7 linked regions of the Homo sapiens genome follow. The protein of the gene in region 2 interacts with the protein of the main gene of each other region in a biochemical or structural test. Each region holds a gene or a part of one and is shown on either strand. Other genes may lie near its edges. The genes, in order: AKAP13, THRA, GTF2B, RANBP9, MED1, PTGES3 and POU2F1.

Region 1 (3,500 bases), on a different chromosome or scaffold from region 2:
ACGACTGAGATGACTGGAATTGAGAGAAGACGCAGTCTCCTTCCAGGAAGCTCACTCGATTCTGGAAATCTGGGGGCTCTGGATAGGAACTCCATCTTTCCCCCAAAACTTAAGCACAGTTTCAGGCACGTGATTTCTTTAGCTTGATGGAGAACATGGTGTCCCGGCGTGGAAACAGTATGGGGAATTCAGTCCGAGTCACCCCAAAAAAACAACCCCTTCTCATGTGATAGAAACCAAGACAGGCCATTAGATCCAGCAACTAGAGCACTGTCAAGGCCATGAGCAAAAGCACAGGCAGCCACCATCCCAGGTAAATCCCCAGGACAGGAACAAATCCCCCTGAGGACAACTTCCAAGGGGGGAAGAGAGATGACAAAGGTATGTAAGCACAGTTCTTGGTAAGCGGTTCTGTTGCTGCACTGCAGACTGTATTCCTGGATGAAGTTGGGTGGTTTGAGGGAATTCCGGGCACTACTTTGATTTTAAACTTGTCCAACCAGAACCTGACCAAATCGTTTTGAGTGGGGTCTGGGCAGATGTGAAATCTCTATTTTTAAAAAAGACCACCAAAACAACCAAAGCAGATGAAACATCACAGCTGGGCGGGGAGTAAGAGACCCTCTAACATTGATGTCAAGCTCTGTGGCGACGTGCTCTAACTTCAGCATCCACGGTGTTTTTGTGAAGAGCACGTACGCAAGTAAATCCCATCAGCACCAACCTCGTATTGTTCCAAACCCGGAGAACAGGGGCACCCGGCCTACATTTACAAGGAGAAGAATGCAGGTTCAGTACTGCCCTCCTGCAAATCCCAGGAGGGGAACTCGGAGCCAGTGCCCAGAACAGACAGCCAAGCCCCGGGTAGATCTCAGGAAAGTCACGACAGATTCAGCTGTAACTTGGAGTTGTACAAATAGGTGAAAGAAAGAAACTTAACTTTTTGTTTAGGGTCTTTGCAAGGGGACATATTTTCAATAGAAAAATCAGCAGGTTTTGGCCTTTGGTCTGTTTCTGAAGGGTGAGTATTCTCCATGACAGAAAAAGGCAAAGGTAGGTCAGAGGTGGCGAGTTTCTTCATTCTCAAACAAGGGAGAAGACATCCTTTGATTAAAGAATGAGGCGGGGTGGGGGAGGGAAGGACATGGACCCCCTCCCTTTAAAATTTCATCTGGGCCTTCAAGGCACTTCAAAAGACACAGAGTGAACAGTGCTGGCTGCCACTTCACTCGGTATTGACTGGATAGTTTAGACTGTTGGGCTAGACCTGGCTCACCCTTAAAAAAAAACAAACACAAACACACAAATACAATAAATAAAACAAATGTAGGCTACAAATTTTAAACCAGACCTCTTTCAAATAAACTGAAAGATAAATATCTCCATCTGCAAGGCCAGCTTGCAATTCATCAATAAGCACCAAGTTACAGATTTTTCTTTTTTTAAGTGTGCTCAAAAGCCCCATGCTTCCGAGGGGCAAAAAAGCAAGAATTGAAGGCCACGTTGGAAGCACAAAATTTTCCAGGGCCTCCCTTCTGGTGTACGGGGCCTCAGAGGGCAACATTACCATGAACTGTCCTGCACACACCAGCTGGGGAAAGCCTCAAGTGAACAAAGATGAAAACACGGTGGGAAAAGCAAAAGCAAAGCCGAGCAGCAGGCAGCCATCTGTATCTGCTTCCAGGGGCAGAGTACAATTCAACAACAGACCTTTACATGTATTTTTGAAGAAATCCAATTTTGCCAAGGCCTCCTAACATAAGAAGGGCGCTTTCACAACCACGCCTTCCGGGCCAGCTCCTCTCCAGATCTGCACTGGCAGGAACTGCTACACATGGCTTCACCCTTCGCCTGAACCCACTTCTCAGCCAGCTGTCCTAGCTTCAGAGCACAGCTTCTGCCTGGCCTGGGTGCGAGGCTGACCCCTGGCAGTGGTGTGCCCTCACCCAGCAAGGGCCAGACAGCTGCTGTCTGGGAGAGGCACGACGGGGGCTCAGGAACACAGCCAGGAGGCCGTGGCCCCTTCTGAGTGGTCAGTGACAATCAAAAGGTGTCACGCTGCAGGGATAATGGTGAGTAGGCCTCTTCACTTTATCCATGGCCAAAACATGTGGGTAAACATGCTGGAAAACCAGGATATTTCTTCTGGATCTGATGACAGAATGAGATACTATGGGTTGTTTTGTTGCTTTAGTGCCTGAAACACCGAGATCGAGGTGGTGCACATCACGTCTTTTATACACATCAAGCCTTCTCTCACTGGTTTCACAAATGTTTGTCATCCCTAAAATGAAATGAGAAATACATGCAAAACACGGGTGGTATGTGCCCGGGATGGGTTTAGAGGGAAACCAGTCTCTGAGGAGTACTGGGTGAACTGCTGATATGCGGGGGCTCCGGGTCCGTCCAGGCACTGCCCTTGTGCTAAGTTGACCAGACGCCTGGTGCAGACTGGGCCTTCTTCTGGCATTCCCCGTGTGTATATGCAGACAGGTCCCCATGTACGTACACAGATCAAGTCCAAAACATCTGCTGTTTGGTTTTGTGTTCCCCCAAATAAAAGGCATTCGGAGGTTCAGACCTTACTTGGATACACTCTTTCAGCCTTTAGGAATTCCTGACGTGTCCAAAACCATCACCTGTACTTACGAGGCCATTACTTTCAGTGTAATCCTGAGTAGGGCCAGCCCAACCTGAGAGTCCTGGGCAGTCACAAATCATGGCCGAAGCAGAGTCTGGGCCTCCTTCCCCACCCGACACTCAATATCATCTGTTGCTTATTGTCCAGGACCTGGGGCCGCCCAGGAGGACTGGACGCTGAGGAGCAGTGGGCGTCCAGTGTAAGAGACTTGTGCACGCGGGGACAGCAGGAGAGGTGGGCTGGCCAGGATCAGGAGGCAGCTGCCTCAGCAGAGAGGAAGAGGGTCAGCAGAAGATCTCTTCACCCTCTGCTGATACTTCTGACGCGGGACCATCTGGAAATGTGAAAACCAAGAATGAAAAAAATTCAGAAAAACTGCTCCTTTCATTGAACTTCCTCCCCATCCCAAAGTCTTCTGTAATGCAAACAGGCGACTGGGGCTTATGGGCAATTAACTCTTCTGCGCACCGGGGTTTCTGAACAAATTTGGTTAATAAGGTTCTTAAGTGATATCCTTCACTGCCTAATGCTCCCTTTAACTTTTAAATAATCACTAGAATTTATGAAGAGGCCAGGAAAATGTACTTTTTCTTTAACCTCCCACACAGAAAGGAGAGATCAATCCTAAAGAGAAGGATTCAGGGGAAAAAGTGGTACATGAACAGGGAGGCATTTAGTGGAATTCAGCCGCAGGCTCTGTGGCCGCTGGCACATTAGTTAGCCTCTGTGAGCCTCAGTTTCCTCACTTCTCTTGGGGTTAGCAGTGCCAACTTCATACAGTCATTTGAGGGTTAAATCACCAAATGCTAGCTGTTACCAATGACTACTCTAGGCCCAGAAAGGCAAGGAGGACTTGAAT
Region 2 (4,168 bases):
TTCCCAGCCCCTAAAACTTGCTGGCCACAGCTGCGGCACTAAGGAAGTGCAGGAAGTCCTGAGCAGCCAGCTGAGCCCCCCGCCCCCCACCCCAACCTCAAGCTGACCCCAGAGGCTGCGCAGGGGGGGCAGAGGGGCGGAGCTTGGGTATTAACAACTGGAAAAGTATGAAGAACATTGCTGCCAGTCCCCAGCTCTGAGACAAGGACAGGGGTAGATCGGGGGTAGCAACAGGGTGAGAGAGAGTTACAGACTGGCAGAGAAACAAGGAGAGAGAGAGGGAGAATCAGACACTGCAAGACAGAGCAACAGAGAGACAGAGTTAGAGAGAAATTCCAAGTCAAAAGTACATATCACTCACACAGACACTCGCCAGCCGATGGCCTCTTAAGGAAAGCTTCCAAGTTTGGACAGGAGGGTACAGGTGGGAAAAAGGGCCAGACTCAAGGTGGGGCGCAGGAACTCAGCTGGAAGTGACTGACTGTTCCCAGGAAAGACCCAGGCAAATGACTCAGAGCAGGGGCAGTTAGACACCCCTGAGCTTTTAGGGTAGGGAGGAGAGCAGCTCTCCCCTTCCCCAACAGTCAAGAGAATCCTAGCTTCTAGAAGTCACTGGACACTGCTTTGAGCCCATGACTCGGCCCTCTGGAACCCCCCTGAACCCACTGTCTTTGCTCTTGTTTCTCTGTCCCTCTAAAAGAAAGAAAGAAAAAAAAAACAGCCCATTCCCGCACAGTGGCTGAGCCTAGAGGAAAAAGGGGAGGAGGAAGCTGAAGGGGAAAAATTTGTGATTGTGTGCATCTAAGTGTGTGCTCGGCTGCACAGGCTGCAGTTGTGTGTATCTGGGGTTGTGTGGACACGACTGTTGGTGTGGACCTGCAACTGTGGGGACCTGGGCCTTGTGAACTCATTCTGCACCTGAGTTCAGGGGACCATGTGCAAATGAGTGCACCTGTGTCTGCAGGTTCCACAGTCAATCAACTAACAAGTATTTACAGAGCAGCCCTTGTGCTAGGCTCTGCGTGGGATCCAGAGCTCTTTAAGTGATTCTCCCAGGTCTCCAAGAGCTCACTGTCTAGTAGGGTGGTATCTCAAGCGATAGAGACCAAGAACATGTCATTGGGAATGCATGCTTTACACCATTACGCAGGAACACTTTTTCATACAGCCAAATTTAATATTCTTGGGAGCAAGGGTTTTGTTGCCTACAGAACCTCAGAGCTCCACAGTAAAGAGTCCAGGAAAATACTTGTTGCTAAGTTGTGTATACATGTGTTGGTGTGTAACTGTGTTTGCATCTGACTGAGTGACAGCGACTGTCACGGCAAGCAATGATGTCTGTGTGACTGGGCTCATGCGAGCACGTGTGTGCCTGTGAGTGACAGGGTCTTTTGTAATTGTGCTGCTGTGTGCAATTGCTCTGTGTGCATGCATGCATGTGACAGTGACTTTTTATGTGTGGGTGACAGCAACTCCTCCTTGCCCCAGTGTGTGACAGCATCTACGTGTGACCCTGTGCGTGGGTATGTGCATGGATCGGTCCCCATGCTCTTGGTCTCCCATGGGTATATCCCACCCCTCAGAGCTCCACGGTGCAGCAGCAGCCTGTCTCTTCCCTTGTCCCCATGTGGGTGTGTCCAGTAGCTCCTGTCCTTGAGTCTGCCTGGGTGTCCCTGGATGTGCATGTGGCTGTCTGTGTGGACATATCTCTGTGTCTGCGTGTCACTTTTGCTTCCCCCCTCATTTTGGACAACAGCCCCCTTCATCCCCTCCCCCTCCTGGAGCCAAAGCCAGCACTGAGGGGCAGGCTCCCACCTCACTGGCTTTCCTTCTGTGTCCCCCACCCCCACCCCTGGAACGGTGGTTCTTTCAATTGCCCCTGTCATCCCCCCAGGCCTTTCTTTCACGCTGGACAAGGGAGGGCCCCAGATGGAGAAGGGGCACCAGAGACACGTTGCAAGGGGAGGGAAACAAGGTGGGGTACACACACACAGGTCCATTTCTCCCTCTCCTCCCCAGCCAGCAACTCTCCTAATCATCTAGGCACCACCAAGTACACCCCTTCCACACACACATTCCCCCCCAACAACCGCGTTTTTGCAATTAGCAGTGTTGCAACCAGACAGCCATGCTCAACCGGGAGGCGGGTGAGGCGGGGGAACTTCCCTCTCCCCGGACCCGTGCAAGCCCACCCGCGCCACCGCACTCATACTGCCCTCCGCAGCTGGAGGCAGCTTTGCAAAGGCCACTCGGGCCTCAGAGGCTAGGGGTGGGGGCTGGGGGGGCAGGCCTCCGGCGCACCGTAAACAAACCGCGGCGCGGCGGGCGGGGGAGCTCCGGCGGCCGGCAACGGGGCCCGGCCCGGGAATGCGCAGCAGACTGGCCGGACAGAGGCCGGGCGGGCCCTCCAGGGGGAGGCTCGGACGCCATCTCCGCCTGCGAACCCCGGGGCCCAGCGACCTCCTAGCAACACCTCCCTTCCCCAGGGCGTCAGTTGCAAGCTCCCGGGCTCGTGACAGGGTCACTGGGGCGCCAGGAAAGGCTGAGGCTGGCAGCAGGCACCCCCTGGGCGCCCCTAGCCCGCCTGGGAGCTGGCCACGGAGCCCCGCGGCTTTGCATAATCAATCGCAAGGCATTTGCATATTAATGCCCCCTCGCTCCCTCCTCCTTACCTCGGCGTGGCGCGCCGGACCGGGCTGGGCAGCGACGCGGGGGTCTCAGCGCCCCGTGCTGGGGGCGTCCATGGGGGGCCGGTGGGGCCCGGGCCGCCCGCCTCCTGCGCCCGGGTGTGAGTGCGAGTGAGCGCGGGGGGGGCGGGGGGCGAGTGTGGCGGCCCCGCGGCTCCTCCGGCAGAGGCGGCGGCCGCTCTGGCTCCTCCCTCCCCCGCCCCGCTCCGGCTGGGGCTCGGGCTCGGCGCGCCCGGCCGGCTCGCGGCTGCTCCCTGCAGGCCGCCTCGCCGCCGCCCGCCCCCGCCCCCCGCCCCCTGCCGCGCCCCGGGACCCCCGCCAGAGGTCCGGCCGCCCCTCGGCCGCCTCTGCCCCGCCCCGCTCGGACTCGCCCTCCCCAGCCCGGGCGGCTCCCGCAGGAGTGGGTACTTGGTGACATATTTTGGAAAAGATGTCATTAAAAAATAGCCTTTGCTTGCCGGGAGAATTGGGGGGTTTTCGGGTGTGCACCGTGAGGGTGGAGGAGGAAGTATCGACGAGCAGCCTGCACCTTATACATCGGGGAGAAAGTCTAAACACCAAACGCTTGCAGGTGTAGTTTGTTTGGGAGTTCGGGTCCCTTCTCCGCCGGTAACTCACTGTGTGACCTTGACAAATCGCCACTGCTGTCGGGGGCAGAGCTTCCTCAAGCTTCAGCTGCGAGGGCTGGGCAGGTGACCCCTGATGTCCTTTTAACTTCAATCATCTTACGTTTTTCATCCTTGTGGGGGTTCATTCCCTGTTACCTCCCTCCCCTCTCATTTCTAACATCAATACCGATCCACTGCCTCCCTTTTCCAACGTCACCCTTCTCCATATAGGCTCTTTCTATTCTCTGTCACCAGCCATTTCCCCCAACAATCTGCTCCCTCTCCTGAGCTCGGGGAGGGGACAAGATCTGCCATACCCCCTCAATTCCTAGCTCCCGGGTGGTGGTATTTCCCCCCATGTTTGCTCCCACAAAAATCCAAATGGTACCAGAGTCAATCTAAGGAAGACGGTGGGCTGCATACAAATGGACCCCCTAACCCAACCCAAAGGAGAGGTCTCCACCATGCCAGCCCCACCCCCAGCACACACATACACACACCACACACCTGCATTCATGGACATAAAACCAACCCAGTGACGCCAGAGCACCTTTCATCTCAGGATCTCCTAGCGCCAGGCCGAGCCCTAATTACCCCAGCACCCCCCTGGCCCCGCCGGTTCCCCTGCTGTCATTAGCCCAGTTTTACCAGCGGGGGCCACAGCCTTCCCACGGCTCTCAGGGTGGGGCCCTGGCTACATAGTCTGCTCTTGGGGAGGGGTGTGTGTGTGAGTGTGTGTGTGTGTAAGTGTGTGTGTGTTAGGGGGAGCTGCTCGGCTAATCGCCCAGTTTATACTGGGCAGAGTCACTTGGCGAGTGTGGGATTCTGAGCCACAGCTTACCCAAGTTGGGCTGCCCTTGCTCATGTCTTAGT
Region 3 (3,500 bases), on a different chromosome or scaffold from region 2:
GCCGAGGCGGGTGGATCACCAGGTCAGGAGATCGAGACCATCCTGGCCAACATGGTGAAACCCCATCTCTACTAAAAATACAAAAAATTAGCCAGGCGTGGTGGCATGCGCCTGTAGTCCCAGCTACTCAGGAGGCTGAGGCAGGAGAATCGCTTGAACCCAGGAGGAGGAGGTTGCAGTGAGCCGAGATCGCACCACTGCACTCCAGCCTGGCGAGAGAGCAAGATTCCATCTCTAAATAAATTAATAAATGATGTTTAAAAATCCATTTTAATAAAGCATTCATAATACTTAACCAAATACTGTCTCAAAAAAAAAGTGGGAGCTAAAGTCAGTAACAAGCAACAATAAAAATGATTACTAGTACTTACTACCTTACAGGGTTGTCAATGTTTTAAAGGGTTTAACTAACATAAAATATATGAATAGTGTTCAGGTCTTAGTATTAGGAGTGTTATCATCTTATACTGGGTATTGTATTTACAACTGACTCCTCCTTTTTCTTTATAAATCTTTCTGAGGATCACAAAAGTACTCCACAAATATGTTCTTGTAAAGAAATTCACTTTATATTTCTGTGTTTGAAAGCTCCCATGCAAAATCTCCCCTAGCTAACTTCTGTTAAGGGGTCCTTATTAAAAACAAAATGTGATACTATAAATATTGTTCTACAATCTTTTTTTCTACTTAATACATCAGAGATCAAACAGCTACTTATTATAGCATACGGAGATGTTTTTCACTGATACAAGCACATACTTAAATATTTTGAGCTCAAACGAACATTGTACAGAATCCTAACAGATCCACTTTTACCCTTTAAAGTCGCTGTCCCTTTTTTCCTTTCAAAGTCATTAAAAGAAATACTAAAGGACTGCCACTACAATGTTTGGTTAAGTATTATGAATGCTTTATTAAAATGGATTTTTAAGCATCATTTATTTATTTATTTAGAGATGGAATCTTGCTCTGTCACCCAGGCTGGAGTGCAATGGCAAGATCTCGGCTCACTACAACCTCTGCCTCCCCGGTTCAAGCAATTCTCCTGCCTCAGCCTCCTGAGTAGCTGAGGCACCTGCCACCATGCCCAGCTAATTTTTGTATTTTTAGCAGAGGCAGGGTTTCACCATGCTGCCCAGGCTGGTCTCAAACTCCTCACCTAAGGTGATCCACCTGCCTCAGCCTCCCAAAATGCTGGGATTACAGTCATGAGCCACCACGCCTGGCCTAAACACCTTTTAATACAAATTCATTTTACTACCTTTTCAGTTGATTCAAATCAGTGAGGTTTTAGTGATTTTCACTGTGAATGCCTGCCATCATTGTACAATTAGCTAATTTTAAATTTCCGTATCTCACACTGCATTACATTATTCTACATCTAAATACCAATAAATGCCAACTATTTGAATGTCAACTGCCTGCTGTGCAGGGAAGAGAAAGACCTTACATTTGAAGAAGACTTTACATATAAAGCCAAAAAGCAGAAAGCAACAAGATTAATGTTTTCATGTTGTTCATTAGAATAAACTTTACAACTAGGAATGTACCTCAAGGACAAACTGCCTAGCTGCAACTTCTCAATTTTACTAAAAGACTCAAAATTTCCTTAAAACGTGAGTGAAGGCCAAAGGGAATGGATAATGGCTCCTTCAAATAACTAATGATTGGCTTTCTTTCTCTAATTATTCCTATCATTTATTACTTTTTTCAACATATAGCCTAAGCTGAAGGCTGTTGTGAATAAAGTATTACAAAGTTATTGAGGCCAGTAATTCACTTTCTGTTTTTGTTTTTTTTTTTTTTTTTTGAGACAGTCCTGTCTCCCAGACTGGAGTACAGTGGTGCAATCTAGGCTCACCGCAACCTCTGCCTCCCAAGTTCAAGAGATTCTTGTCTCTTAGCCTCCCGAGTAGCTGGGACTACAGGTGTGCACCACCATGCTGGGCTGATTTTTGTATTTTTAGTAGAGATGGGGTTTTGCCATGTTGGCCAGGCTGGTCTTGAACTGCTGGCCTCAAGCAATCCACTCACCTTGGCCTCCCAAAGTGCTGGGATTACACAGGTGAGCCACCGCGACCTGCCACCAACTTTTCTTTTTTTTGAAAAAGAGCCTCACTCCATCAACCCAGGCTGGAGGGCAGTGGCATGATCTCAGCTCACTACAACCTCTGCCTCCTAGGTTCAAGTGATTCTCCTACTTCAGCCTCCCTACTAAATGGGATTCAGATATGTGCCACCACACCCGACTAATTTTTTTGTGTTTTTAGTAGAGACAGGGTTTTGCCATGTTGGCCAGGAGGCTGGTCACCGCACCTAGTTTATGAATTTCTTTACATGCATTTGTTCATGAATAACTTCTGTAATCCTCAAAGACTTAGAAAGGAGTAGTCACTTCTAACTTTAAAAGGGAGTTAGTGGGCCATGTGTGGTGGCTTGTGCCTATAATCCCAGCACACTGGGAGGTGGAGGCAGGCGAATCACATGAGGCCAGGAGTTCGAGACAAGCCTGCCCAACATGGTGAAACCCCATCTCTACTAAAAATACAAATATTAGCTGGGCGTGGTGGCACGTGGCTGTAGTCCCAGTTACTCAGGAAGCTGAGGCATGAGAATAGCTTGTCCGGGAGGTGGAGGTTGCAGTAAGCTGAGATTGTGCCACTGTACCTCCAGCCTGCGCAACAGAGGGAGACTGTTTCAAAAACAAAAAAAAAAAAAAAAAACAAAAAAAAAAAAGGAAAAGAAATTCACTTAATACTTCTGGTGAAAGTTTTCCTACAACACTAAATTTAAACATAGCTTTAGAAGGCTGAATTACTTACATCTACTTATTTCAGAATTTGTATTAAGAAACTGTAAAATACTGTGCAAAATGGGAAAAAACCAACCTTCACAGAATGTTAAAGGCTGATGGCCAACACGTATTTTACAGTGTGTCTATCTGTAGAATCCCATGCCAAGCAGTGAGAAACAAAGCATGGCCTCCCTGACCCCTAAGATTTAAAAAGGTAAGTTTGGAAAGGAAAAGAGTATTCAAAATGATCAGGAGGAATATATTCAGGGAGAAAAAAGAACTTGTAAGAATAAAAGATGTACAAACTAAAATAATTCAAATGGGAAAAAAATTAGGTTTGTTCACAGGGTTATGTCTCTGAACATTTTTTTTATGAGCTGCTTAAAAAGCAAAACATATTTTCTTAACATTTTGACGTTGAGGAATGATGTCTTAAACGTGGGTTTTTTTTTTTTTTTGAGATGGAGTCTTGCTCTGTTGCCCAGGCTGGAGTGCAATGGCACAATCTCAGCTTGCTGTAACCTCCACCTCCCAGGTTCAAGCAATTCTCCTGCCTCAGCCTCCTGAATAGCTGGGATTACAAGCCCCACCACCACACCCAGCTAATTTTTGTATTTTTAGTAGAGATGGGGTTTCACCATGTTGATCAGGCTGGTCTCGAACTCCTGACCTTAGGTGATCCTCCCGCCTCGGCCTTCCAAAGTGC
Region 4 (3,500 bases), on a different chromosome or scaffold from region 2:
CTCTTTTATTACAAAGTGATCTATGTCCACGGCAGTCTTCACCTCTTCCACTATTATCAAAGAACAGTCTGTACTCTCCTCTCCAAGACCAACCATTCTGGACTCTGGAACCAGTTTCCTCTCTAGAAGCCTCTCTGTCAGCCTCTCAAGCTTGTATTTCATTATCTTCCTCTCTAATCTCTCCTTCCCCTCAATCTGTAAAGGGACAATGTCCCCAAAATGTACACTTTTCACAAATTCTATGCCTCCGTGCTACATATAAATCATTGTCAGTAATGTACCAGAGTTGGTGGTATATAATTTTTTACCTTAAAAGTAATAACAAGGCTGGGCGCAGTGGCTCATGCCTGTAATCCCAGCACTTTGGGAGGCCAAGGTGGGTGGATCACTTGAGGTCAGGAGTTCGAGACCAGCCTGGCCAACATGGTGAAATCCCATCTCTACTAAAAACATAAAACTTAGCCAGGCATGGTGGCGGGTGTGTGTAATCTCAGCTATTCGGGAGGCTGAGGGAGGAGAATTGCTTAAACCTGGGATCCGGCCTGACAAAGCGAGACTCTGTTCAAGAAAAAATAGTAATAATAACCAGGTAGGCTAATCAATTTTATTTGTTAAAATGTTAAATTTTGTATACATTTCCTGGAACACCATACCTTGGACTAATATAATATAGTATTTTCATTTAATTTATGTCGCTTCAGTTTTACCTATACAACCAAATTAAAACAAGATTGACTAAGAAATGACACAGTGGTCTCTAACACAATACTTTCCAAAGGAATTTTTAAGGATAATTTTGGTTATGTAGGATTTTCATCTTCTATGCTGACATTAGAAGCTAAACACCAGGTAAAACGTAACTCCACTATCAGCCGTTAAAAATTAGAAGAAAAAAAAAATCCTACCTTAACCTCCATCCTCCTCTAGGAAATGCCTCATCTCTTCCTTCATCTATATTTCTCAAGGATAATCTCTATTCACTATCCTCTCTACTTGGTCCTTTCATTTACTCTTTCAACCCACTGAAATCTGGTTTTTGCCCCATCACTCAATTCAAACTGCTCTCCCTAAAGTCACAATGATCTAATTTCCAAACGTAGTGGAAAACTATCTGTGCCTATCCTACTAAACCTATCTGTTGCAACAGACACTAAATATCACTTCCTCATTTCTAGGGAAGGTGGGGAGGCTGTTTGAGACAGTGTCTCATTCTGTTGCCCAGGCTAAAATGCAGTGGCATGATCACCGCTGGCTACAGCCTCAACTTCCTGGGTTCAAGCAGTCCTCCCACCTCGACTTCCCCAAGTTTTGGGATTACAGGTGTGAGCCACTGCACCCTCCCGTGCTCAGCTTCTGTGACACCAATCTCCTTGATGTCTGGGGACCTACCATTTCTTTTGTGCTCCCTCTAGTCTTTCAATGTTGGTGTTCTTCAGGGTCCCCATCTTTGGCCCACTGCTTTTTCTCACTCTATTCTCCCTCTCTCTTTCAAATACTCTGAGTTTCAACTACCACCTACAAGTGACTCCTAAATCAGTCACGACCTAGACCTCTCTCCCAAGCTTCAGATCAATTATGGTTAACTGCCAACCCTTCCTAGGAGAAACTGCCTCACACATTGCCCCTACCGAAAGAAGTGAGACCCAGACTATCCTTGTACCAGCAGGGTATTTTGTATTTTATAATTACCACCATTCCTACAGCTGATTCAACACAGGTTAGCACCTGACTTGAAGGCCACCAATTCACAACATAGTCTGTATTGAAAAGCTCTGCCCAACTAAGAATCATAGCAATTAGCCAGGCCAATCTGTTAAGTCTCTCAGGAATTTGACATAGGAAGGAAAGGATAAGCCAGTCAGTAGGGAAAAAGAAATAAAACAACCAGAAACTAGTGATTGGAGCTGAGTCATTTTAATAGAATAGAATTAAGTCATGACTATTAAGACCAGTTAGAGTCCCCTTAACTCCAAAAGACCTGTTCCTGTTCTTTCTGTAAGGCTTGTTTCTTTGGCTTCTTCTGGTTTCCATGAAGTCAGATCACAGGGCTGAGATTCCCATTTTTACTTATCTCCAACTATACTGTAATACAGTCTCCTTCACAATCATTATTTTATTCATGGTTCACTGCAAGAGCCTAACAGCTAAAGACCCAAACATCATCCTAACAGAGTTGGAAACCCAAACATTTTCTTTGATTTCTCTCACTATCATTCCTCATATCCTCTCAGTATTACTTTTAAATATCTCACAAATATATCTGCCTTTCTCTGGCCTTACCACTGACCCAGCTGAGGTCAATTCTAACATGGTCTACTGCAATAGTCTTCTAAATGAATTTACTATTCCCACTCTTGTAACCTCTTGAATCTATCTTCCAATCAGCTGCGTAATCTGACAAAAATGAAGATATGAGCCAGTCACTTCCCATTTAAAATCCTTTGATGATTCTCCATCTCCTACAGAATAAGATCTAAACTCAACAAAATATTCCATAGGGCTCCTAACTGGGCCAGGTACAGTGGCTCCTGCCTGTAATCCTAGCACTTTGGGAGGCTAAGGCAGGCAGATGGCTTGAGCTCAGGAATTCGAGACCAGCCTGGGCAACATGGCAAAACCCCCTTCTCTACAAAAAAATACAAAAAATTAGCTGGGAATGGTGGCACGTGCCTGTAGTTGCAGCTATTCAGGATGCTGAGGTGGGAGGATCACTTGAGCCCAGGAGGCAGAGGTTGCAGTGAGCCTAGATCGCACCACTGCATTCTAGCCTGGACAATGGAGTCAGACCCTGCCTCAAAAGAGAAAAAAAAAAAAGCCTCCTAATTGATCTTTTCCCAGATGCTCCTTGTCACATACTCTAAATGCCAACCCAAAATTGCTTGTAAAACCAGACACATAAAGTAATTCTCTATGTTTTTGCTTTTCCTTCATTTGCAACACCTAGCCCCTCCCTTTCTCCTATATCCTACTCATCTTTTAAGACTGACCACTAGCCTCGACTCCTCCAAGAAGCTATCCCTGATACCTACACTTCCTTCATTCTTTCCAATGTCAGCCTGGGTTATACGCTCCTCCTATTTTCCACAGTACTCTCTATAATATTTCCCTTACTACTCTATTTTATGTCCTCTGAGCTCTCTGAATTCAATGACAGTATCTTCTCCACCTCTGAGTGTCCAGAACCTAGCACAAAGTAAACATTCACTAAAAGCTCATTAAATAAATGAAGAAATGAACAGTGAAAAACACATATAAATTGTCTAGTCTAGCAGAATATATATCATTAGGCTGGGTGCAGTGGTTCACGCCTATAATCCCAGCACTTTGAGAAGCCAAGGCAGGCGGATCACTTGAGGTCAGGAGTTCCAGACCAGCCTGGCCAACATGGCAAAACCCCATCGCTACTAAATATACAAAAATTAGCCAGGCGTGGTGGCAGGCGCTTGTAATCCCGGCTACTTGGGAGGCTGAGGCTGGAAAGTCACTTGAATCCAGGAGAT
Region 5 (3,500 bases), 650 kb from region 2:
GTTAGTTTGTTTGTTTTGAGACAGAATCTCACTCTATCACCCAGGCTAAAGAACAGTGGCGCAATCTTGGCTCACCGCAACCTCCGATTCCCAGGTTCAAGTGATTCTCCTGCCTCAGCCTCTCAAGTAGCTAGAATGACAGACGGATACCACCATGCTCGGTTAATTTTCGTATTTTTATAGAGATGACATCTCAACATGTTGGCCAGGCTGGTCTCGAACTCCTGACCTCAAGTAATCTGCCCGCCTTGGCCTCCCAAAGTGCTGGATTACAGGCATGCACTGCCACGCCCAGCCTAACATTTAAGTTGTGAAATCTGCTCAGGCAGACACAGTGGCTCACACCTGCAGTACCAGCTACTCAGGAGGTCTAGGTGGAAGGATAACCTGAACCTCGGAGGTCAACACTTCAGTGAGCCGTCATCACACCACTGCACTCCAGCCTGGGTAACAGAGTGAGACTCTTGTCTCAAAATAAAAAAATAAAAGAATAAAAAGATAAAAATGTCACATCTATGAAGAATTGGCACACAGGATAGGTAAGAAAAATATCTGTATTTTATTATGGCTTTCTCCTGCCTTAAAGTACCATAATTCCAGGCCTGAAGTTACCTACTTTACTTCCCATTACTCTCATAGTAATATCATTAAAAAAAAAAAAAAAAAAAAAAAAACAAAGCTGGCTGTGTGCAGTGGCTCACGCCTGTAATCCCAGAACTTTGGGAGGCCAAGGCAGGCAGATCACCTGAGGTCAGGAGTTCGAGACCAGCCTGGCCAACATGGTGAAACCCCGTCTCTACTAAAAATACAAAAATGAGTCAGGTGTGGTAGCACATGCCTGTAATCCTAGCTACTCAGGAGGGTGAGGCAGGAGAATCACTTGAACCCGGGAGGCAGAGGTTGCAGTGAGCCAAGATTGTACCACTGTACAATCTGGGCATCAGAGCAAGACTCCATCTCAAAAAAAAAAAACAAAGCTTAGATTACTTTGAATCCGAAAGCAGAGAAGGGTGAAATCAAAGCAATAACTAAATTGCTCCTTTATTTGAAATTCATGCTAATTCTGAAAACAACATTTTTTTTTTTTTTTGAGACAGAGTCTCACTCTGTTGCCCAGGCTGGAGTACAGTGGCATGATCTCGGCTCACTGCAAGCTCCACCTCCCGGGATCATGCCATTCTCCTGCCTCAGCCTCCCTAGTAGCTGGGACTACAGGCGCCCGCCACCATGCCGGGCTAATTTTTTGTATTTTTAATAGAGACGGGGTTTCACTGTGTTAGCCAGGATGGTCTCAATCTCCTGACCTCGTGATCCACCCGCCTTCACCTCCCAAAGTGCTGGGATTACAGGCGTGAGCCACCAGGCCCGGCCTTTTTTTTTTTTTTTTTTTTTTTTTTTTTTTTTTTTTTTTACAACAAAAACAAAAACACGGAGTCTTGCTCTGTCGTCAGGCTGGAGTGCAATGGCGCAATCTTGGCTCACTGCAACCTCCACCTCCCAGGTTCAAGTTATTCTTCTGCATCAGCCTCCCGAGTAGCTGGTACTACATGTGCCCGCCATCGCGCCTGACTAATTTTTGTATTTTTAGTAGAGATGGGGGTTCACCATGTTAGCCAGAATGGTCTCAATCTTCTGACCTCGTGATCCGCCTGCCTCGGCCTCCCAAAGTGTGGGGATTACAGGCGTGAGCCACCGCGCCCTACTCAACAACATTCTTTATACATCTCTAAATGGGACTCAGATGAAAAAGGGCCAAGGCTACCTTTGAACAACTTTGGCAATGAAGTCATCTGTGCAGATCAGTGCATCCGACAGCCCTTTGTAGAGTTTACAGCTCACATGTGTTGAGTCCTGCACATCCATTACCACTGAAAGACAAAATACATAGGAAATTGTTTTAGATTTAGCTTCTGACTTTTCCAAAAAAGACATAGGGACCAAACCGCTCCATGAGAGGTGTTAGCCACCCACACAACTCACCACACACCAGGGAGTCATTCACAGGGTGCTGAAAAGATACGCTGAAACGAGACTCTGAGAGAGGACACACTTCAAATTGGAGAAGCCCAGGAGAATCTAAAAGGCAAAGAGAAAGATCATAAAACAACCAAATATAAGACTTCACACAGGCTGGGCACGGTGGCTCACGCCTGTAATCCCAGCAGTTTGGGAGGCCAAGGCAGGTGGATTACCTGAGGTCAGGAGTTCAAGACCAGCCTGGCCAACATGGCGAAACCCCAACTCCACTAAAAAATAAAAAAAAGAGGCCGGATGCAGTGGCTCAGGCCTGTAATCCCAGAACTTTGAGAGGCTGAGGTGGGCTCATCACCTGAGGTCAGGAGTTCGAGACAAGCCTGACCAACATGGACAAACCCCATCTCTACTAAAAATACAAAATACAAAATTAGTCGGGCGTGGTGGCACATGCCTGTAATCCCAGCTACTCGGGAGGCTGAGGCAGGAGAATCACTTGAACCTAGGAGGCGGAGGTTGTAGTGAGCTGAGATCGTGCCACTGCACTCCAGCCTGGGCAAGAGTAAGACTCCATCTCAAAAAAAAAAAAAAAAAAAAAAAAAATTAGCCGGGTGTGGTGGCGCACACCTGTAATCCTAGCTACTCAGAGGGCTGAGACAGGAGAATCGTTTCAACCTGGGAGGCAAGGGTTGCAGTGAGCCGAGATCATGTCACTGAACCCCAGCCTGGGAAACAGAGCAACACTCTGTCTCAAAAAAAAAAAAAAAAGACTTCACACAAATAACATTCCTTAAATGTACAGACTGAAATTCTCTCTCCCTCCTTGGAAACTAAATCGCACACTTTTTTCACATACAAAACCTACTATATGTCATCCACAGATGACAGAAGGAATCAGATTCCAAGGAACCTGCCAGTTTGTTATAAATTTCTCCAGAACAAAAGTAGCTAGACTTTCAATTTTCCAAGATGAAGAAACTTAATCCCTAAAATGTAAAAGTGAATTCTGAAAATAAAAGTGGCCGAGTGTCTCATTCTACTTGATAAGCAGATATCCAGAACCACTGCCATAAACTCTGCTTTCTATCAAGTGTTTGCAGCTGTTAGATGTGCAGCCCATAGTTTGGCAAGCAGAGATATAGAGGCTATAATCTAAAATAATGTATTTATTCCACATATATCTAGCCATCATCATATGTTCTTATGCCAGATGTGCTAGCAGCCTAGACACAAGGATCATATACTTTCTTTGTAAAAAGCATGCCTCTCTATAGGATTAGCTCCATAACTGCCTTATGAAAACTCATTTTTAAATGCCCTAAAGCTATCTGGAGACTTCTTAAGGCATTTTAACACATGAAACAGAAGTGCCACAACTTTGAACATATATGCTCTATGTTATTACTCCAACTACTAAAAATTTCTCATTTCTAAAGCAATTTTTATTTCCATGAGAAGAATCTCCTGGCCCAGCACAGTGGCTCATGCCTGTAATCCCAACACTTTGGGACACTGAGGTGGGAGGA
Region 6 (3,500 bases), on a different chromosome or scaffold from region 2:
AAATTGCCCCATACAATGGTACATATCAACCCTTAGTGAAGCCTTTTAAAAAACAAACAGGTTGAAAAATGGGTTAAAGTAGGCAAATACAGCATATCTGCCTTTAGAGCTATCAACTCAGGAATTCTCTCAATTATGAAATCTTGCAGAGAAGTTATTTTTCTTTCTCAAAATCCAGGTGATGACAATATTCCTTACTCCAGATCTGGCATTTCTGAAAGAATTTTTAAAAATATTAGTATATAGTACAAGTGAATAATCTACCAATTTTACTGTCTTAAAGGAAAAGCAACCAAAAATCGAAATACATAGTTGCCCAATGAATTAATAGGTTGTCTTGCTATCAAGTTATTCACATTTCTGCTTTGGTTATTTATTCAAGGTCATAAAGAAAAAATTACTTTACTTCCAAAGAAGTTAACATCTCTATTTTGAGTTTGTTTTTTGATGCAAAGTATCACTGTATAAACATACTTTTTATATACACTTACTTTCATCATCACTGTCTTGTGAATCCTGAAAGAGGGAAAATAAAGTTACCGAGCTGATCAAATATTCGTTTGCTAACTGAACAGTTTACCTAAAAAAGTTCAAGTGCTATATTTTTGACTAAAGTAGCACAGGTAGGTAGTCATATCAAGCCTAGAAATTTAGTCATTGGACTTGACTAGGTTTACCTAAGGTGAATGGATGTACAGCAGAGGATTTATCTACCTATAAAAAATGATGTGTGCCTTTTGGTGACAATTTAGCCCACCCGTTGAATCCATTCCTAAATTAACCTATCTCGGCATTCAAAGAGAAAACATGGATCAATATGAAGAAAAATGGACTGATAGAAGACAGTGAACTCTAATCCTAGCTGTTGAGTGAATATTAAGTGTTTTTCTAAATAGCATTAAATAACTTTCTGGGAGATGTTAACAGGATGCTGGGGTTGGAAAGATGTTGAGAAAAGTAGTTTAGTGTATCTTCCTCTTACAGATTTCCAATGTCCATCTTTTTTTTTTTTTTTTTTTTGGGTGGGGGGAGATGGAGTCTTGCTCTGTCACCCAGGCTACAGTGCAGTGGCGAGATCCGGCTCACTGCAACCTCTGCCTCCCGGGTTCAAGCGATTCTCCTGCCTCAGCCTCCCAAGTAGCTGGGATTACAGGCACCCGCCACCATGCCCGGCTAATTTTTGTATTTTTAGTAGAGATGGGGTTTCGCCATCTTGGCCAGGCTGGCCTGAAACTCTTGACCGCATGATCCACCCATCTCCGCCTCCCAATGTCCATCTGTTTTATCGGTCTCTGACCAATCCTGACATAAAACCTATTTAACTTACTTTCTTAGTCAAAATCATACCTATAAACTGACTCTCTTCTTTCTTTTTGAGATGGAGCCTCGCTCTGCTGCCCACACTGGAGTGCAATGGTGTGATCTTGGCTCACTGCAACCTCCGCCTCCCAGGTTCAAGCGATTCTCCCACCTCAGCTCACCAGTAGCTGGGATTACAGGCACCTGCCATCATGTCTGGCTAAGTTTTTAAGACAGGGTTTCACCATGTTGGCCAGGCTGGTCTCGAACTCCTGACCTCACGTACTCTGCCCACCTGGCCTGCTGGGATAACAGACATGAGCCACCTCGCCCGGCCTAAACTGACTGTTATAATTGAGTACGGTATTAATATATAATGTCTCTATACAATGATTCTTTGGAAATCTAATCCATTTAGGAATGGTCTACGGTACAACCAGTTCCCTAATAGATACCCCCATTCGTCAAAAATGGGCACATTTTAAAAATTGCTTTTCCCTTTTCTTTTTTTTTAGAAAATAAGAAGTAATTGTGAATCTATATAAAACCATTTGTAAATATGTTGTTTCTTACTATTTAATAGTATGAAAGTAAACAGAAAAAAGAATTTTTAGACTTACATCATCTGCTCCATCTACTTCTGGTAAATCTACATCCTCATCACCACCCATGTTGTTCATCATCTATTTGAAGTGTAAAAATTAGTTTTAAAAATGATGTTAAGTTAGGCCCTAATTATTAATGCTGTATGCTTCAGAATAAACCTTAAGTCTGCCACAGATATCAAAAAATGCAAAATGCAAATATAAGCATCTTTCCCTTCTGGAAAAGGAAGATTATAGGTAATTATACAAAATCCTAAAAACCCATATGGAAATTAAAACTAAATTTTCCCTAAAGAAAAGCAAAGCTATTCATGCAACAGGTTTGACAAACATTAAAAATTCTACTTGAGTAGTGGTTACCTCTGGTGGTTAAGGAAAAGAATGGGATTCATTTGTAGTTGCACAGCTATCTATCTTAAGTTAGGTGGAACATGTATTAAGGTATTCTTTTTTTTTTGAGACAGAGTCTAGCTTTGTCGTCCAAGCTGGAGTATGGTGGCGTGATCTCAGCTCACTGCAACCTCCGCCTCTGGGTTCACGCAATTCTCATGCCTCGGCCTCCAGGGTAGCTGGGATTACAGGCGCGTACCACCACACCCAACTAATTTTTTGTATTTTGGTACACACGGGGTTTCACCATGTTGCCCAGGCTGGTCTCGAATTCCTGGGCTGTAGTGATCCACCCACCTTGGCCTCCCAAAGTGCTGGGATTACAGGCGTGAACCACCATGCCAAGCCTTTTTTATTTTGAGATGGAGTCTTGCTCTGTTGCCCAGGTTGGAGTGCAGCAGCACAATCTCGGCTCACTGCAACTTCCGCTTCCCGGGTTCAAGGGAGTCTCCTGCCTCAGCTTCCTGAGTAGCTGGGATTACAGGCAGATGCCACCACGCCCAGTTAGTTTTTGTATCTTTGGTAGAGACAGGGTTTTACCATATTGGCCAGGCTGGTCTTGAACTCCTGGCCTCAAGTGATCCCCTTGCCTCGGCCTCCCAAAGTGCTGGGATTACAGGAGCAAGCCACTGTGCCAGGCCTGGTATTCTCATCATGGTTTTAGATATTGTGAAGAACCAAGAAATGATTTAAACTTAAACTATTATCAGATGATGAGAAACTTATTTTCTCAAGTTTAAACCATTTTTGTAATGTTTAAATTTTAGAAAAATAAAATCACATATGCATGGAAAAAAAATCAAACTTCAAAAATACATGATTACCCAGATTTTAGAATGGGAAAGGACCTTAAAAAGATAGTCAAACATACAATGGAATGTGTTCAGCCTAAAAGTATCATTCAGCCTTAAAGAAAAAAATCTGCCTTATGTGACAAAACACAATGAAGAATCTGAAGCACGTCATGCTATGTGAAATAAGCCAGTCACAGGACAAATACTGCATGATTCCACTTATATGAGATACCTAAGATTATGTAAGATACCTAAGATAGTCAGACACACAAAAATAGAGAGTAGAATGGTAGATGCCAGGAGCTGGGGGGAAGGAAAATGCAGAGTTGCTACTGTTAAATAGGTATCAAATTCCAATTACACAAAATGCATAGTTCCAGAGACCTACTACTGTACAGCATTATGCCTATAG
Region 7 (3,500 bases), on a different chromosome or scaffold from region 2:
AGATATAAACAGGAATGGCTGGAAAATGAACAATATGCTGTGTGTTAAACGACTCATTTGTGCTTAAACATATGATTACCTTAATGGAGTTGCACTGATACCTTAAAGGGAATATATTTTTATATGGAAAAGTGACTTAGGTGTTTTCTTGTTTTAGTACACTTATTTTAGTGGTCTGCTTAATGAAAAATACAGCCTTTTTTGGCTGATTCATACTGCAGCAAGCAATATTATAATTAATGTTTTAAAGTAGTTACCATCCTAGTCTATAAAAGGTATCTGCTATGTACCTGGTCCTATGCCTGTAGTCTTTGGGAATAACAAGGAAATATGACTGCTGCGGAGGAGTTGGTATGTTTACTTAAGCAGGAAAAATTGAAAAACAGTGTATATAATTACATATTAAAATATGTAACAGATAATGAAGATTGGAGAATAGATCAGAGTGTGTCCAAGTTTGAAAGAGCCAGAGCATCCTAGAATATATTATAGCTGGAAGGTAATTTAGATATAATCTTTGCTAAAGGTTTTGCTTCACAGATGAGGAAATATTTTCACAATGGTTTAGTGACTTGCTCACAGTCACTTAACTATTCAGTAACAGATAAGAACACAAGACTTCTAACTTTCTCCCACCTCCCAGTCTCTCCTCCTGCCCCATTGCTGTCAGTCAGAGAAGGCTTTATGTAGAAGGCGAGACTTTTAAACCGAGCTTTAAAGGGCAAAAAGAATTTAGAGGAATGGGAATACAGAGAAGGCCATTGAAGGGGAGATTGTGTTCAACATTGTGATGTATAGGTAAAGAATGAGGAAGCATTTGTTCTATCTGCAGGAAAGCTGTTGGAGGATTTTGAAATAGGGACTGATGTGATAAAAATGGTGTGTTAGGAGTAATGTGGTGTGCAGGATGGTTTGAAATAGGAAGGGAGAGATTAGATCCATAGAAACCAGTGTATAGAGGTATTTGGTTTATTAACTAATTACTGTAGGTGCTACTAGAGATACAAACATAATTTAAAAATTACTTGACCTCAAGAGACTTCCAGTCTAATTTATGAAATAGATAAGTCGTGATAAAGGTGTTGAGGATATTGTCCAATTACATTACATGGAATAAGGACGTTTGGGAGAAATTCTTACCTGGCCTTTACAGTAGAAACTATTTGTTTTTAGTCTTATGGACACTGAATTGTCTAATTGACTTAGTTTCCTTTTCAAATCAAACTACAGTTTGATTTGGTCAAATTTAGGTCAGATTATTAACCTGAGAAGCACATGCATAGGCAATTACGTTTGCATTTCTTAGCCTGATTAGTAGATCAATTTTTTGTCCATGCATTTGTTTTGTATTTCTTGTATTGCTTCCATCTTTAAACTCTTTTTATCTTGTTTTATGTGGGCCACCTTACATCCTTTCTGGAGCAAGGCAGGTATAAATAATATTACCATAACCATGGCACAGTGATAATGTCTGTATTTTTATAGTACTTTAAAATTTATAGCCACATTCTCATTTTCATTACCTCAGTTAGTCCTTTCAGGCAAGCGTTACTATACCCATTTTATAGTCGAGTAAAATAAAACTTAGATTAAGTGACTTTCTCAAGGTCCTGTGTTTTTATAAGCATTAAGTGTGGGTAATAGCAAGACTTCCAGCTTAGTTGTTATTTAGGCTGTGTATTAAGGCACTTTGGGGCTCTATTGTGGAGAGCTCTGAATCCTTTGTGTTGGTGTAAGAGTTTGGATTTTATTTGCTAGGCAGTAGGAAGTCACTGAATTTTTTTTTTTTAATTTTTTTTTGTTATGGACAGTGCCATGATCAGAGCCCTTAAAGTTTAGCAGCTAATTAGATGCAAAGAGATTATCAAGGTTTTGAGTTTAGGTTATCCAGAAAAGAGCATTACCATAAGCAGATGTAGGGATGTTGGGAAAAGGAGCCATTTGGGGAGTAAGTCAGTGAATTCACTTTGACATGTCATTTGAGACATGTTTGGGTGGGTCTTATTGGGTTGTAGATTCCTTGTGAAAATTGAAAATTTTTTAGTGAATTAAATGTTTGATAAACATTAATACTAGGGTTGAAATTTATGCTCATGCCACTGTGCGTGTGGACTGAGTATTGAATCTGAACGTTGTAAATTCTAGATATCTCATTTTGGCTTTGGCACTGTCTTCTAAGGTTATTTCCTTCAACAATACGATGGTGATAATACCAGTGTTAGAGGGATGCTGTGGGGAGTATCAAATTGATAGCAGAAGCATTTTTAAAGTAACTCTGTAATAGTTTTTCTTACATGAGCACAGGAGTAAAATCAGGAATTTTATTACTTGTGCTGCTGTAGAGAAGCAGAAGCTTTAGCAGCCGATGGATTCTGTGGGGCACCTGACTGTAGGTTGTTCATTTTTTGGTGCAGCCAGCATCTTAGGAGGAATGGACACTCCTAATACTCTTCTGAAAACTTTATACAGTGGAGGTGTTGCATTGTAGCAAATACAACTTACCTTGATTTCAGGGCATTCTGTTATCTAGCCCCTACCCTTGCCTATGCATTATTATCTTTACTACTTCCTTAAATAGCATGACTCAACAATTCCATCAAGGAAGTTCCCTTATTGTCCATTTCTACCACAAATACAGCATATTATCAGATTTTAATTTTTAAAGAAATTTCCCTAAAATTTGAAGATCTATCTTGGGAGGATGGCTATAATTTATCCTGAGACTTACCTGAGCCTTTCTCCCATTACCATCCTTGCAACACCAATCCCAGTTTGAGACACATGACCTGAATGTGTACCCAGTGTTTTGGTCAAGCCAGTGTGTTTGGGACGTTGTGTGAGAACCTTTACTCACACTTTTTCCTCCATTGGAAGGCCATGGTGTATGGTATGGTAGAGTGAAAAAAGGTACTGGGGGGTTCAGAGACCTGGCTTCTCTGTCACTAATTAGCTTAGTAACTTTAGGACAAGTTACTTCACCATGGATTTTTTTTTTAATTGCATTTGTAAAATAAGGGATTTCAAACTTTTAAAAGCCTTTGGTGTTCTTTTTTAAAGGCAAAAGTGGAGCTGTTCTGATTAAAATTGGATATTGGAGCAAGAAAAGCATTTTCCTCCTCCTTTCCACAGTAGCTTTTGAGGCACTTTCACAGGGTCCTTAGGACTTCTGCTGGTCATGACTTGAAAACTTTTGTCCTTATTTATCTTAAGGGACCTGTCTGTCCATTTCTTTATCTCCACAAATAGCCATCTGTCAAATCTGAGCTCCTGTCATACTTTCTCTGAAATTAGCACTTAATTTGTGTTCAGTTACCCAATTCAGCACTTCATTATACACAGTCCTATTTTCTTCTCTAATTGATTATGTAAGTAAATCTTGTCCTAAGAGCCTTGAGTGCAGGAACATACTGGTAGGGACAGAGTAGGCCTAGACATTTAACAAATAATGAATGCTTGGTTGATGGACTTAGTGGTTCTCAATCTTTGTCACCATGGGGTGA

Evidence for each region.
Region 1: the proteins of THRA (region 2) and AKAP13 form a complex in vitro, tested with the Homo sapiens proteins (one study listed by BioGRID and IntAct).
Region 3: the proteins of THRA (region 2) and GTF2B form a complex in vitro, tested with the Homo sapiens proteins (one study listed by BioGRID).
Region 4: the proteins of THRA (region 2) and RANBP9 form a complex in vitro, tested with the Homo sapiens proteins (one study listed by BioGRID).
Region 5: the proteins of THRA (region 2) and MED1 form a complex in vitro, tested with the Homo sapiens proteins (6 studies listed by BioGRID, with this or other methods).
Region 6: the proteins of THRA (region 2) and PTGES3 form a complex in vitro, tested with the Homo sapiens proteins (one study listed by BioGRID).
Region 7: the proteins of THRA (region 2) and POU2F1 form a complex in vitro, tested with the Homo sapiens proteins (one study listed by BioGRID).

The regions. Positions count from the first base shown.
Region 1 is NC_000015.10:85,744,103-85,747,602, reverse strand, and holds part of AKAP13 (A-kinase anchor protein 13), read right to left. Parts: intron 2,976-3,500; coding exon 2,926-2,975; 3' UTR 1-2,925. UniProt on the Homo sapiens protein: Scaffold protein that plays an important role in assembling signaling complexes downstream of several types of G protein-coupled receptors.
Region 2 is NC_000017.11:40,061,597-40,065,764, reverse strand, and holds the start of THRA (thyroid hormone receptor alpha), read right to left. Parts: upstream 2,801-4,168; 5' UTR 2,673-2,800; intron 1-2,672.
Region 3 is NC_000001.11:88,853,568-88,857,067, forward strand, and holds part of GTF2B (transcription initiation factor IIB), read right to left. Parts: intron 1-3,500. UniProt on the Homo sapiens protein: General transcription factor that plays a role in transcription initiation by RNA polymerase II (Pol II). Involved in the pre-initiation complex (PIC) formation and Pol II recruitment at promoter DNA.
Region 4 is NC_000006.12:13,701,836-13,705,335, forward strand, and holds part of RANBP9 (ran-binding protein 9), read right to left. Parts: intron 1-3,500. UniProt on the Homo sapiens protein: May act as scaffolding protein, and as adapter protein to couple membrane receptors to intracellular signaling pathways. Acts as a mediator of cell spreading and actin cytoskeleton rearrangement.
Region 5 is NC_000017.11:39,413,264-39,416,763, forward strand, and holds part of MED1 (mediator of RNA polymerase II transcription subunit 1), read right to left. Parts: intron 2,077-3,500; coding exon 1,981-2,076; intron 1,869-1,980; coding exon 1,763-1,868; intron 1-1,762. UniProt on the Homo sapiens protein: Component of the Mediator complex, a coactivator involved in the regulated transcription of nearly all RNA polymerase II-dependent genes.
Region 6 is NC_000012.12:56,664,285-56,667,784, forward strand, and holds part of PTGES3 (prostaglandin E synthase 3), read right to left. Parts: intron 1,983-3,500; coding exon 1,920-1,982; coding exon of another isoform or gene 1,872-1,919; exon of another isoform or gene 523-1,871; intron 517-522; coding exon 492-516; intron 215-491; coding exon 195-214; 3' UTR 1-194. UniProt on the Homo sapiens protein: Cytosolic prostaglandin synthase that catalyzes the oxidoreduction of prostaglandin endoperoxide H2 (PGH2) to prostaglandin E2 (PGE2).
Region 7 is NC_000001.11:167,227,386-167,230,885, forward strand, and holds part of POU2F1 (POU domain, class 2, transcription factor 1), read left to right. Parts: intron 1-3,500. UniProt on the Homo sapiens protein: Transcription factor that binds to the octamer motif (5'-ATTTGCAT-3') and activates the promoters of the genes for some small nuclear RNAs (snRNA) and of genes such as those for histone H2B and immunoglobulins.